3 linked regions of the Homo sapiens genome follow. The gene in region 1 interacts genetically with each later gene. Each region holds a gene or a part of one and is shown in the gene's direction. Other genes may lie near its edges. The genes, in order: CSK, HRG and EPYC.

Region 1 (3,652 bases):
GTGTCTGTTCTGCTCCCCTGGCAACTTTTTCTTCAATGACTTGAGCTGGTGTTTTGCCATTTTCCATACTCTATCATGGGGAGTGTTCAGTATCGGCATCTAGAGATCTCCCCTGGCCCCATCACAGCTAGAGCTATGCTGTCCCCTTTCAGGGACATCTTGTAATTTATCCACCCAGCCCCCAACTGATGGACATAAAGGCTGTCTCCCCATCATCTCCTGCTACTACAGACAGCACTGCAGGGACTGTCCTGCTGTGTTTTTTTAAGGCATGGGTACTCCAGAAGCAGTTGCTCAGCTGCACCCCCAAGGTTGAGTGGAAGTCCCTCGGTAAAGGAGGAGGAGAGAGTGTGAAGGGAATGGCAAGGCGGGGAGGGAGACAGGGCACAGGTGTCCTGGCAACAGCAGATGGGAAACAGGTCTGGCTAAGGTACCAGAAGCCAACAAGTCCCAGAAAGGTCAAGTGACTTTCCCAAGGTCACACAGCAAGTTGATGGCAGAGCTGGGTACAGGACTCAGAGCATCTGACACCCAGGACGATGTTCCTGCACTGTTCCATAGAGTAGCCCGACTCTTAAGTTTAAATAACCCCAGGAAGGACCCCCTCTCTGTGCCTGACCCCCGCTGGGTTGTAGAGGCCTAAGTTTGCAGTAGCTCCTCCCAGCCACTCTGGCTGTCAGCCTCTGACCTGCAGTGGGAGGGTCTCACCTTCTGGAGATGTTTTAAGGAGGGGACCCCGGCCTAGGCACTAGCTGGGAAGCCACTGAGCCATCTTGTCTGCGGCCACTGACGTCAGTGCTTGGGCACAATGCCAGCCTGTTCCCGGGACCCCAGCACAAGGGCTACTGGGAGCCGGGTTTGGGGCAGGAAGTCAGCGTGAAGCACTGGTCCTGCCACATCCCAAGCCCCTTGTCCCCTAGCTCTGTGGGGGTGGGGTGACAGCTGCTATCGCTTTGGGGTTAACTATAGTCCCTTTGGGGTTAACTATAGTCCCATTGGTTATGGGACCTCAGTGTGATGTAGCCAGGCTGGATTCCCCCTTTTGTTTGTTCATTTATTCATTCATTCAGGGGTCTCATGACCCCACCAGGGAGGAGCCGTCCAAGAGAGTTAGCAGCTCCCACTTGCAAGATGTCTGTGGCAAGGCAGGCACTGTTCTGGTGCTGAGAGCTCAACTCCAGTCCTCACAGCAGCCCCCAGAGCCAAGGAGTATCACCAGTCCATTGCACAGATGGGGAAGCTGGGTTCTAGAGTCACAGCCAGCAGAGTAAAGGTGATGAGTTTAGCCCTCTTCCCTGTTTCCAGACCCTCTGAGGCCTTCAGAGCCCAGCTCCTTGAGGCAGCCCACCCCGACCGCTCCTAGGCTTACCCTTCCCTGAGCACCGCCCCTGTGCCCCTCATAGCTGCTTCTGCCTCCTCCCTCCTCCCTCCTCTCCCTTGCCCCTAGGCTAGTGTGGTCCCCATGGCAACTCCTGGGGCCTGTCCGGCAGGGAGGCACGGGGCTATGGGGAGGGCTGGCTCAGCAGCTCAGGAGTTTGACACCTGAGGGGGACAGAATGCTCACTCAAGGTGTGGCCCTAGGGACCCCCGCCTTGCCCCTGTGGGCCTCACTTGGGGTTCTCATCTGCAAAATGGGGATAATAATAGCTTCTCTGTCTCAGAGTTGTTAGAGGATGTGATGAGCCATAACGTGCCAAGGACAGGGCCTGGCACAGAATAAGTGCTCAGAAAACAGGGCCTGTTATTATTTTTATTATTATAATCAAGGCAGTGGGGAGGCGGCGGTGGCAGTAGCTGTAGGCCAGGAAGGGAGTGTTTGCAAACTGACAGCTGGAAGGGTGACTAACAGCGCAGCAGCCTCCGCGCCCCCCTGTGGTGGCAGGGAGTTTGGGGAGGAAGGGGGAGGCATGGGGATGTGGAATGCTAGCAGGGCCCCTATTCAGAAGGACCTAAAGGTTGGGGGCCCAGCCAGCCCTAGTGGGACCCTAATTCAAGCTCTGTCACCCCTAACTAGCTATGTGACTTCAGGCAAATTGTTCAACCAGTTGAGCCTCAGTTTCCGCTTCTGTGAAATGGGGGTAAGAGGGTTAGAAGAGCTCACAATCCTCCTTCCCTCCCCGCCACCCCCACCCCCACAGCTTACAGTCCACAGGAGGCAGGGGCAAGGGGTCCTCACCACCCCCACCCTCACAGCTTACAGTCCACAGGAGGCAGGGGCAAGGGGTCCCCGCCACCCCCACCCTCACAGCTTACAGTCCACAGGAGGCAGGGGCAAGGGGTCCCCGCCACCCCCACCCCCACAGCTTACAGTCCACAGGAGGCAGGGGTAAGGGGTCCCCGCCACCCCCACCCCCACAGCTTACAGTCCACAGGAGGCAGGGGCAAGGGGTCCCCGCCACCCCCACCCTCACAGCTTACAGTCCACAGGAGGCAGGGGCAAGGGATGGTTCCTGTACTTAGTGGTGACTGAGTCATGTGGATGGAGGCAGGTTTCAGGCTCATCCTCCTTGGGCCTCAGTGTCCCTGCCTAAACAGCAGGATTGATGGCCTGGCCTCTGGGGATAGAAAGGGCCCTGTATTCTGGGAGGAACGGAAGCTCTTTCATCCAGGGGATGGGGCAGGGGCGCACCAGACATTTCCAAGTTCAGGGTTTCATTCCAGCCCCTCCTCAGCCAGCTTGCAGGAGATACCTGTCCTCCCCTTCAGGGTAAGCAAGACTTAGAAGGGTTGAGTCACTCACCCCAAGTCGCACAGTCAACAGAGCCAGGTATTAAGCCCAGGCCTGACTATAGAGCCAGGTGTGCGGCCTGGAAGTGTTGGTTCTCCCTGGCCGTCTCCTCCCCAGCTCCTTCTGCTCTCCATGATCACATGCCCCCCTGCTGAGGCCCCATCGCCCTTGGAGTCAAACCCTGGTTCCTCACATTGGCAGTGGAAGTCCCCCTGCTGCCTGGCAGAGTTTATGCCAGGCCCACTTGAAACCATCCCCTACAGTGTCCCCTGAGCAGCGGTGCTCAAGGTGGACTCTGGAAGTGTGTGGGGTCCTAGAGCCCCAGATGGGCAGGGTCTGCCTTCCCGCTTCCCTCACCATCGGCTTCCACCTGGGCCAGTTTCTCATACTATGCCAGTCCCCTGCCTGACACCTTTGCTCAGACTGCTGCATCAACCTGGGGTGCCTTCCCTGGCCCGCCCTCTGCCTGTGTAAGCCCTGCAATCTTCAGGGCTCAGCCCCAGAGCTCCCTCCTCCAGGGAGCCTGTCTGAGCTCTGCAGTCCGTGCCTACTTCACACCCCCAGCACTTTGCACTAAAATGTCTTCTCCCGCGCCACTGCACTCCAGCCTGGGCAACAGAGCAAGACTCCGTCGCAATAATAACAATAATAATAAAATAAAATGTCTCCTTCCACTGGGGTAGGTAGCAATATTTGTGACTGTCAGCCTAGCCCCCAGACCTCATCCACTGTATCAAAGAGCCCAGCAAAGAGGCTCATGGAGGAGTTTCTCTTCTAACACACTGTGACCACGAAGATGCCACTGGCCCTTTCTCACCCTCAGTTTCCTCACCCGTAGAAAGGAAACAGTAGTTCCAGCCCCTCTGCTTCCTGAGACAGGTCCAAGGGGGCTCTGGGCTGGGATTACAAAGTATGTGTGTGCAG
Region 2 (3,752 bases), on another chromosome or scaffold:
TTTCATACACCTCCCTTTTCTTTCTGTCTTCAAATCCTTTCCCTCTCTTCAGTTCACTCTAGAATCCCAGTAATTCTCAACCTTGACTGCACACACTGGATTACCTAGGAGTTTAAAAACTACCAATACCAAAGTCCACTCCCAGAGATTCTGATTAAATTGTCCTGGAGGAGTCCTTGACATCAGGACTTTTTAAAGCTCCTGGGGTGATTCTAACATGAAGCCGAGTCTGAGAGACATGACTGCAGACTCTCACAGACACTCACTGCGGATAGAACAGGGAGGAATGGAGATGCTGCCTAACTGGCTGTTTCTTGGCAGTGAGGACGGAACCTAGGCTGATTCCCTCTGGTCCCTTCTGATGCTGCTGGCTCTGCTGGTCTGAGGGTTGCATATAGGTATACGGGTTTCTTCTGAAGTGTGAAGGTAGGGGGTCAGCTGTATCATAGCCCAGTCCCCCCCTGCTGATCCCTTCTAACAGTGGGATGGGCATCCAACTATTTGACTCTTACTCTCACCACCATCCTCTTCCACGTGAATCAATTCTTTTTGCAGGGAATTGGGGTGGCATGAGGTGTCCCCAACTTCTTTGCAGGCACACTAATAATAAATAGCATCACTTATTCAGCATCTACTCTATGCCAAGAATTATACTGGTTGCTTTCTTTTTTTCTTTCTTTCTTTTTTAGATGGAATCTCACACTGTCGCCCGAGCTGGAGTGCAGTGGCGCGATCTCAGCTCACTGCAATCTCCGCCTCCCGGGTTCAAGTGATTCTCCTGCCTCAGCCTCCCAAGTAGCGGCGATTACAGGCATGTGCCACCATGCCCAGCTAATTTTTTGTATTTTTAGTAGAGACAGGGTTTCACCATGTTGGCCAGGCTGGTCTCAATCTCCTGACCTTGTGATCAGCCTGCCTTGGCCTCCCAAAGTGCTGGGATTACAGGCATGAGCCACCGCACCCAGCCTGATTTCTTATTTAATTATCACACAAGCCTGCCAAGAGGTATCAATCCATATTTCGTAAATGAGGGAACTATCAGAGAAGTTTTGTTGCTTACCCAGCATTACACAGTAAGAAAGTAATAGAGCCAGGTGAGAAATTCAGATTTGACTTCAAAACGACAGCCTCTTCATTGTTCTATTTTACCTGAAGTCATTCCTTTTATAATGGTACCTGTTTAACATGTTCCCCCGCTTAGATAATGCAGCTGCCTTCTACTGAGGAGTTTTAGTGCCATGATCCATCAGTCCACTGACTGATGATGGAGATTTCCAGCTGAGACAGGCAGGCAGATGGAGGAAAATTACCCCTAGCCCCACCCCCTACACCAACATAGGCACTGCTTATATTCAAAGACGTACTTTAGATCTGCTATCTACTAGAAAAATCCAGATTTGTGCAGATCACAGTTCCACCCACTCATCAGCATTTCTCAGCTTTCTGCCCCCAGGACCCACTAATCATTTACAGCTTGTTGATGGTTATTTGAACCCAGGGTCAAGGTGAACACCCTCAGTTACACAACAAAAATGTATCAAGGTTTTGTTTAATCAATTGCGTGTGTTTCAGAAAGTCTGTATAAAATTCTCTGCAGTGGCAGATCATAGCAAGGGATGGTTTAACAAAATGAAGGCACTCATTGCAGCACTGCTTTTGATCACATTGCAGTATTCGTGTGCCGTGAGTCCCACTGACTGCAGTGCTGTTGAGCCGGAGGCTGAGAAAGCTCTAGACCTGATCAATAAAAGGCGACGGGATGGCTACCTTTTCCAATTGCTGCGGATTGCTGATGCCCACTTGGACAGAGTGGTGAGGAATTGCCAATGGCAGAGCTGAGTTGGGAGATTACTCACGGGGGCAAATGTGACTCTACCCCCTAGGCTTACTGCTTTGCACAATGAATGGCTTTGGTCAGAGTTTTTTGTTTGGCTTCTGCGGCTGCTCTAAATTGTTCTTTTTTCCTTCAAACTAATATTTGTTATTAGTGTACCCGCAACTATGATTCGATTTGTGGGTACATATAAGCATTTATGCTGAGCCCAGTTACATGCTAAGGACTGCCAGAGAAACATTAGAATAAGCTATGGGCCTTGGCCTCCAGGAAATAATAATACACTGGCACATACAGGCAAACAGTGTAAGTTACTAGGATAAACTAGAGAGAAGGAAAAGTTTTCTCAACCCTCCTAAGGCTCCTAACTGAGCCTGAAATAAAACTGGTAGACAAGGCCAGGCGCGGTGGCTCACGCCTGTAATCCCAGCACTTTGGGAGGCCAAGGCGGACGGATCATGAGGTCAGGAGTTCAAGACCAGCCTGGCCAACATGGTGAAACCCTGTCTCTACTAAAAATACAAAAACTAGCTGGGCATGGTGGTGCACGCCTGTAATCCCAGCTACTCAGGGGGTTGAGGCAGAAGAATCGCTTGAACTCGGGAGGCAGAGGTTGCAGTGAGTCGAGATCATGCCACTGCACTCCAGCCTGGGCAACAAAGCTAGACTCCATCTCAAAAAAAAAAAAGAAGAAGAAGAAAACATACAAATTTATTTAATCCAAGGTTTACCTGACACTGGAGTCTTCATAAATGAAGACTCAGATATCCAAAGAAACTGGCCACTTGCATACTTAGAATTCACAAAGGCTGTGCAGAATGCAGAAGTGTGATGGGACAAAAGGCTGTAATCTAAGAGTCATAGACTGAAAGAAGGACCCAGCAAGGCCTCTCTGTTTGAGTTCTTCATGGCCTCTCTGTGTGGCATTTCTTGCTCCCAAGTATGGGACAGGATCCCTTTGGAATGCGGATCTGAGGACCTACTATCAAACAGAGTAGGTCAGAGAATGTCTTTATGGCCAGCTCCTACAAAGAAAGACACAGGGGGAAGGTTAGATTCATATTTTAGGATTTATGGATGCTTTCGGGGAGAGGGATTCTACCATCTGTGACTGTCCTGGAGAAGAGAAATTTTAGTTTCTATGGCTTGCCTTGGGGGAGAAAGCAGAGTAGGAGAACAAAGGGCAGAAGGTCAGACAGATCTGGCTTCTGAGGCCCTTCCCATTTTCTTCAGTTCAAAGGACTCAGCACGCCAAAAGTACCATACTTTGAGATACCATGTTCTGAGCCCCAACAATAGCCAAGTGACCAAAGGAGTGGTAAATGTACTGGAGCAATTTAATGAGGGGAGATCTAGTAAGACTGGATGGGAGGAGGCTTCTGCTGTGTAATGATGCATGGGTAGGATTTGAACAGGTCTGGGTAAATGTGTTCCTGGTGAATTCCTGGCACCACCACTTCTAGGTGGGTATGGAATCAGGAAGAAGGGTGTTAGGGAGCCATTGAATATAAGCAGGTGGGTTCCAGAAGTTCCATGTGGGCTCTGGAGCAGGCATCAGGTAGGAGCCAAGCCTGTGGGCTTGTCTTGAGGTGAAACAAGCTTACTGTCTTCGCTTAGATTACACGCCTACCTAAACTGGACTAGAGGAGCCGATAGACATTATAGAGAGACATGAAGCCTGCCTCTAAGCTCCCCAAATAACCTACTCTCCCTCTGATGGAAAAACTGAAATTAGGGAGGCCAGACAAGGAGTACTACAGAGGACAATTTACCCTTCTGAAAGTATCACAGAGGGAGGCACTGTGGGTTGCAGAGAACAGGTGTGCAGGAGTTTAGGATTCAACCAGTAATTCAGTGACCATTAGTCCCATGCCAGGCTCATCAACACATGTTAGGGCATAGGATGCATCAGCACAGA
Region 3 (3,752 bases), on another chromosome or scaffold:
AAGTTGATTTCCTCTTTTTTTGTGTCACACATGGTGCTGTATCATTTATCATCTGAGTCTCAGTAGTCCCATCTGTGAATAGTGGTAAGCACTCTGCTTAAGAATGTGTTGAGGTGATTAACAATCATATATGAAATCACCTGACACCCCACGTGGACCTTGCTTCTAAAGAGGACAAGCCTAGAAACTTGGATTCAGGCATCTTTCCAGCACTGCTTCTAAAAGTGGCCTTTATATGGTGGGGTGAGACTTCACAGATGCCAGAAATAAGTTCCTGTCTCCAAGATGGCCTCTCTATTTTTTGAGAGGTCTTGGTAGACTTCATACATTACCCATTATCACTGTTTCTGCTCCAAATAAAATTGTTTTTGAGAAAAACAATGCATACTAAGAACAAATCATTTGGAAACAGGGTTGGATGATGGGGATGACAAATAAGAATGCCCTGAATAGATGGGCAAAGACATTTTGAGGGCAGGGAAGATGGGAGCAGAGGCAGGAAGGGGAGTGAGAGAACCTTAAAGACAAACCTTCTTCTCTCCCATCACTTGGCCCAGGAGTAATACCGCTTTCAAAATTCAATACATCTATTCACTTGCAGACATGAAGGAAAAGATTCCTGAAGCATAAGTGAGAACCAAATTCCTAGATTTATCTAAAGCATACCAGAATACAAGATGCAACTTTCACCTTTCTCTAGGACTTATACAATGTAAAATTGAGGTATGGAAATTTAAAGCATATTTTTTCTCTTCATATTTGTATTAAAGTTCAATTTTACAAACCATGGAAGTTAACAAGAGCTTAAAATAAAGCTCCTATTCTAAGGAAAAAATGTGTAATTTGATTTATTTGTCTATGATAGATACAATAACTTTTTTTAAAAAAAGCCCCTTTTCTCCCCAAAACACGCAGATCATATTTATGCATCACTTCTGGATGTAATTTTTTTAAAGTTATGCAAAAGGTTCATTTTTCCCTGTTTTGCTATCAAAGCATTCCATGCAATCAAAATAATTGGGATATCTTTTTTTACTTACCCAATATTAAACAGGTAAGGTTTCTGCAACATTTACCAAATTTCACTTAACATTAATGAAAAGTGAAGAAAGCAATTCAAGACTTCAAGTTTTGGGAAAATTATTTCTTATTAGAACTAAAATATCCATCTATAGTATCACTGTATACATGAACTTCATTTCTTAATTGGTGAGTTTGTTACAGATGAGGTATGTTAAATCCAACTTTTTCCATTTAAAAATTTTAAGGTGATACTTTGGCAATTATAACTCCATTAACATAATTTCAAGAACTTTGTATACTATGTGATTTGGATCCTACTGCTTAGTTTGGGTGACTATAAAATAATTTGAGGTTTTTTAAAGACTGAGAAGTATTTCTCAATATTAGGTTTTGCAAACAGAAAGTTGAGTGTTATAAATTCCACCTCCCACAGACCAGAATTCACAGCCATTGGTCAGGGGCAAATACCACTAGCTCTGCATCCTCAGTCACTTTGTGCCATTTCATCAGGTCAGAGCCAAAGGTAAGTTTTTATACTTGCTTTCTTCTTGGGTCAGAGTTCTTTCCCTACTATAACAACCTTTAAAAAATAATTTAACTTGCCTTAATGTCATCTGGTGAATTTTGATTCAATGGATTTGGTTTATTTTTGTTATTGACTTTGTATTTATATTATTCTTGGAAAATCCAAAATTTTGAATTAGCTTAGGAATTAATAACATACAGCAAATAGTTAATCTCAGTAGTCATGACAGATGCCAATAAAATTAGAGTAGTTTCCAATATATGCCTTAAGTAAAGTTTCCTGACACAGACCACATTCTTTGCCAGTATAGACAGGCACTATTGATTGATATTAATTGAAATTTTGTGAAAAGGGAGGAAATAGTGAAATTTCCTGAGATTAAAAGTATTGTAATGATTACATGACATTATGCATTTAAAATTTTTTTGAGCTATATATTGAAAGTTTTAAATACACAAATTTTAAAATATTAATAAATGGTATAAAGTGAACACAAAATTAAAGTGTTAATTAAGAAACTACATTAAATGCTAATACAATTACTTGAAGAAAGGAATATAAATTTTTTAACTAAACATAGATAGATGCTGTATATATTTTTAAGATTCACACAGCCTGCCTTATAGTTGATAGCTCTAGGAGTGATGCAAAATGCAAGCAAATTCTGAGATGTAGCTATATGTAATCAAATATAGTATGATGTGAGAAAAAAGGCCAGCAAGTGTATAATTTCTTTGAATAATGGAAGTTGCCAGAAACATATAAGGAAAAATTTTTTTTAAGTTGGTAGTGGCTTCTGTTAATGTTTCCAACTTGATTATGGGAGAATGGTTCCTGGAAGATTTGCAAACCCACTGTTTTATTAAGTAGGACTTTGTTGGTAATTGCCTAGAACAGTTCCAAATCTGCAATCCTGCAAAGACTTCTGCAAAGGCAACTGAAATAGAGGCTTAGTTTATCCTGTGTGAATAAGAAATTTATTTGAAGAAAGCATAGGAGAGCTAAGAAGGAGCTCCTTGTACTGCTTCTTATTCTCAGAGGAATTTCATATCCTTCTGCCTAAACCTGCTTCATAAAGGCTTTCTTTCAAGTAACTGAAGGTCATTTTGTCTGCCAGTGCATTCAAGTTTAAAAGTAATATTTATCATGAATTCCCTTTTATATGTATGCATAGGTAGTAACACCACAGGTACTGTTCTTAAAGTAAACCCAAGAAGTGTGTCCAAATGTAAAAGCCTCTAAAATTAGACATGCTTGATACAGAATTTTACAATACTTTGCCTGCTCAATAAGGGATCACTAGGTAACATTTTGGTAAGACTAACTTAAATGTTTCAAATTAAATGTGAAGATTTTTTTTCTAAACCAAAATGTATTCAAATGAGTACATACAGAACTAAAAAAATAATTAAATTATAGGATCTTGATTGAATCCTCAAAAAGCATAATGTTATAATGGAAAATAAGAATTGTGCTTATTAAGGAATTAAAAAACAAAGATGGCTATAATCCCACAGGCATACAAGGGAATCTTACCAAATAGTGCCTTTTAAACATGTATTCCTGTTGGTTCTGAGTTCAAATCTTAGATAGCTATTAAGAATTAAATAAAATACTGAGGACTAAAGGAAATTTTTTTTCTATTCTATTTCATTAGGAGCATTTTGAACAATATTGCATGAAATACTAACGTACATATTAAACAATGTATGTATTTATATGTCCAGAGGCTACAAAGAAGTAACAGAAAAAACAAACAAAACTTTGTTACTTTGTTCTGAAGAAGGCCTTAGACTTAAATGTACAAGAAACAGTTATGAGTCCTATTTTTAAAATTATTTTTAAAACCCCAATGCCTAAGCCACACTGTGGATCACTGAAATTGGAATTATTTGTGGATATCCTAGTTGCATTACCAGTCAACTCTGCCTCAGTTTCTTCACCTATAAAATGGTATGACAGTTGCAGTCATCATCACCGTCATCATCATTATCCTTATCATCTTCAACTTCATATCCCAGAGTTGATGAAGGATCTTAATGTTTATTAAATGGTAAAATTATTAGATGATGAAAAGCTTTTGTGAATAAGCTCTGTTTTTCTCTATAAAATAAAATAAAATTTTACTGTAATTAAAATATCCACTGTAAAATTAGAGACAGGTTTGTGAATTAATTTGAACATCTGGCAGCAATGGTCCTAG

What was found.
Region 2: changes in CSK (region 1) and HRG are lethal when combined (synthetic lethality), as found in Homo sapiens cells (one large-scale study listed by BioGRID).
Region 3: changes in CSK (region 1) and EPYC are lethal when combined (synthetic lethality), as found in Homo sapiens cells (one large-scale study listed by BioGRID).

What each region holds. Positions count from the first base shown.
Region 1 is NC_000015.10:74,791,976-74,795,627, forward strand, and holds part of CSK (tyrosine-protein kinase CSK), read left to right. Parts: intron 1-1,070; exon of another isoform or gene 1,071-1,273; intron 1,274-3,652. UniProt on the Homo sapiens protein: Non-receptor tyrosine-protein kinase that plays an important role in the regulation of cell growth, differentiation, migration and immune response.
Region 2 is NC_000003.12:186,664,403-186,668,154, forward strand, and holds the start of HRG (histidine-rich glycoprotein precursor), read left to right. Parts: upstream 1-1,611; 5' UTR 1,612-1,629; coding exon 1,630-1,812; intron 1,813-3,752. UniProt on the Homo sapiens protein: Plasma glycoprotein that binds a number of ligands such as heme, heparin, heparan sulfate, thrombospondin, plasminogen, and divalent metal ions. Binds heparin and heparin/glycosaminoglycans in a zinc-dependent manner.
Region 3 is NC_000012.12:91,002,741-91,006,492, reverse strand, and holds the start of EPYC (epiphycan precursor), read left to right. Parts: upstream 1-1,520; 5' UTR 1,521-1,546; intron 1,547-3,752. UniProt on the Homo sapiens protein: May have a role in bone formation and also in establishing the ordered structure of cartilage through matrix organization.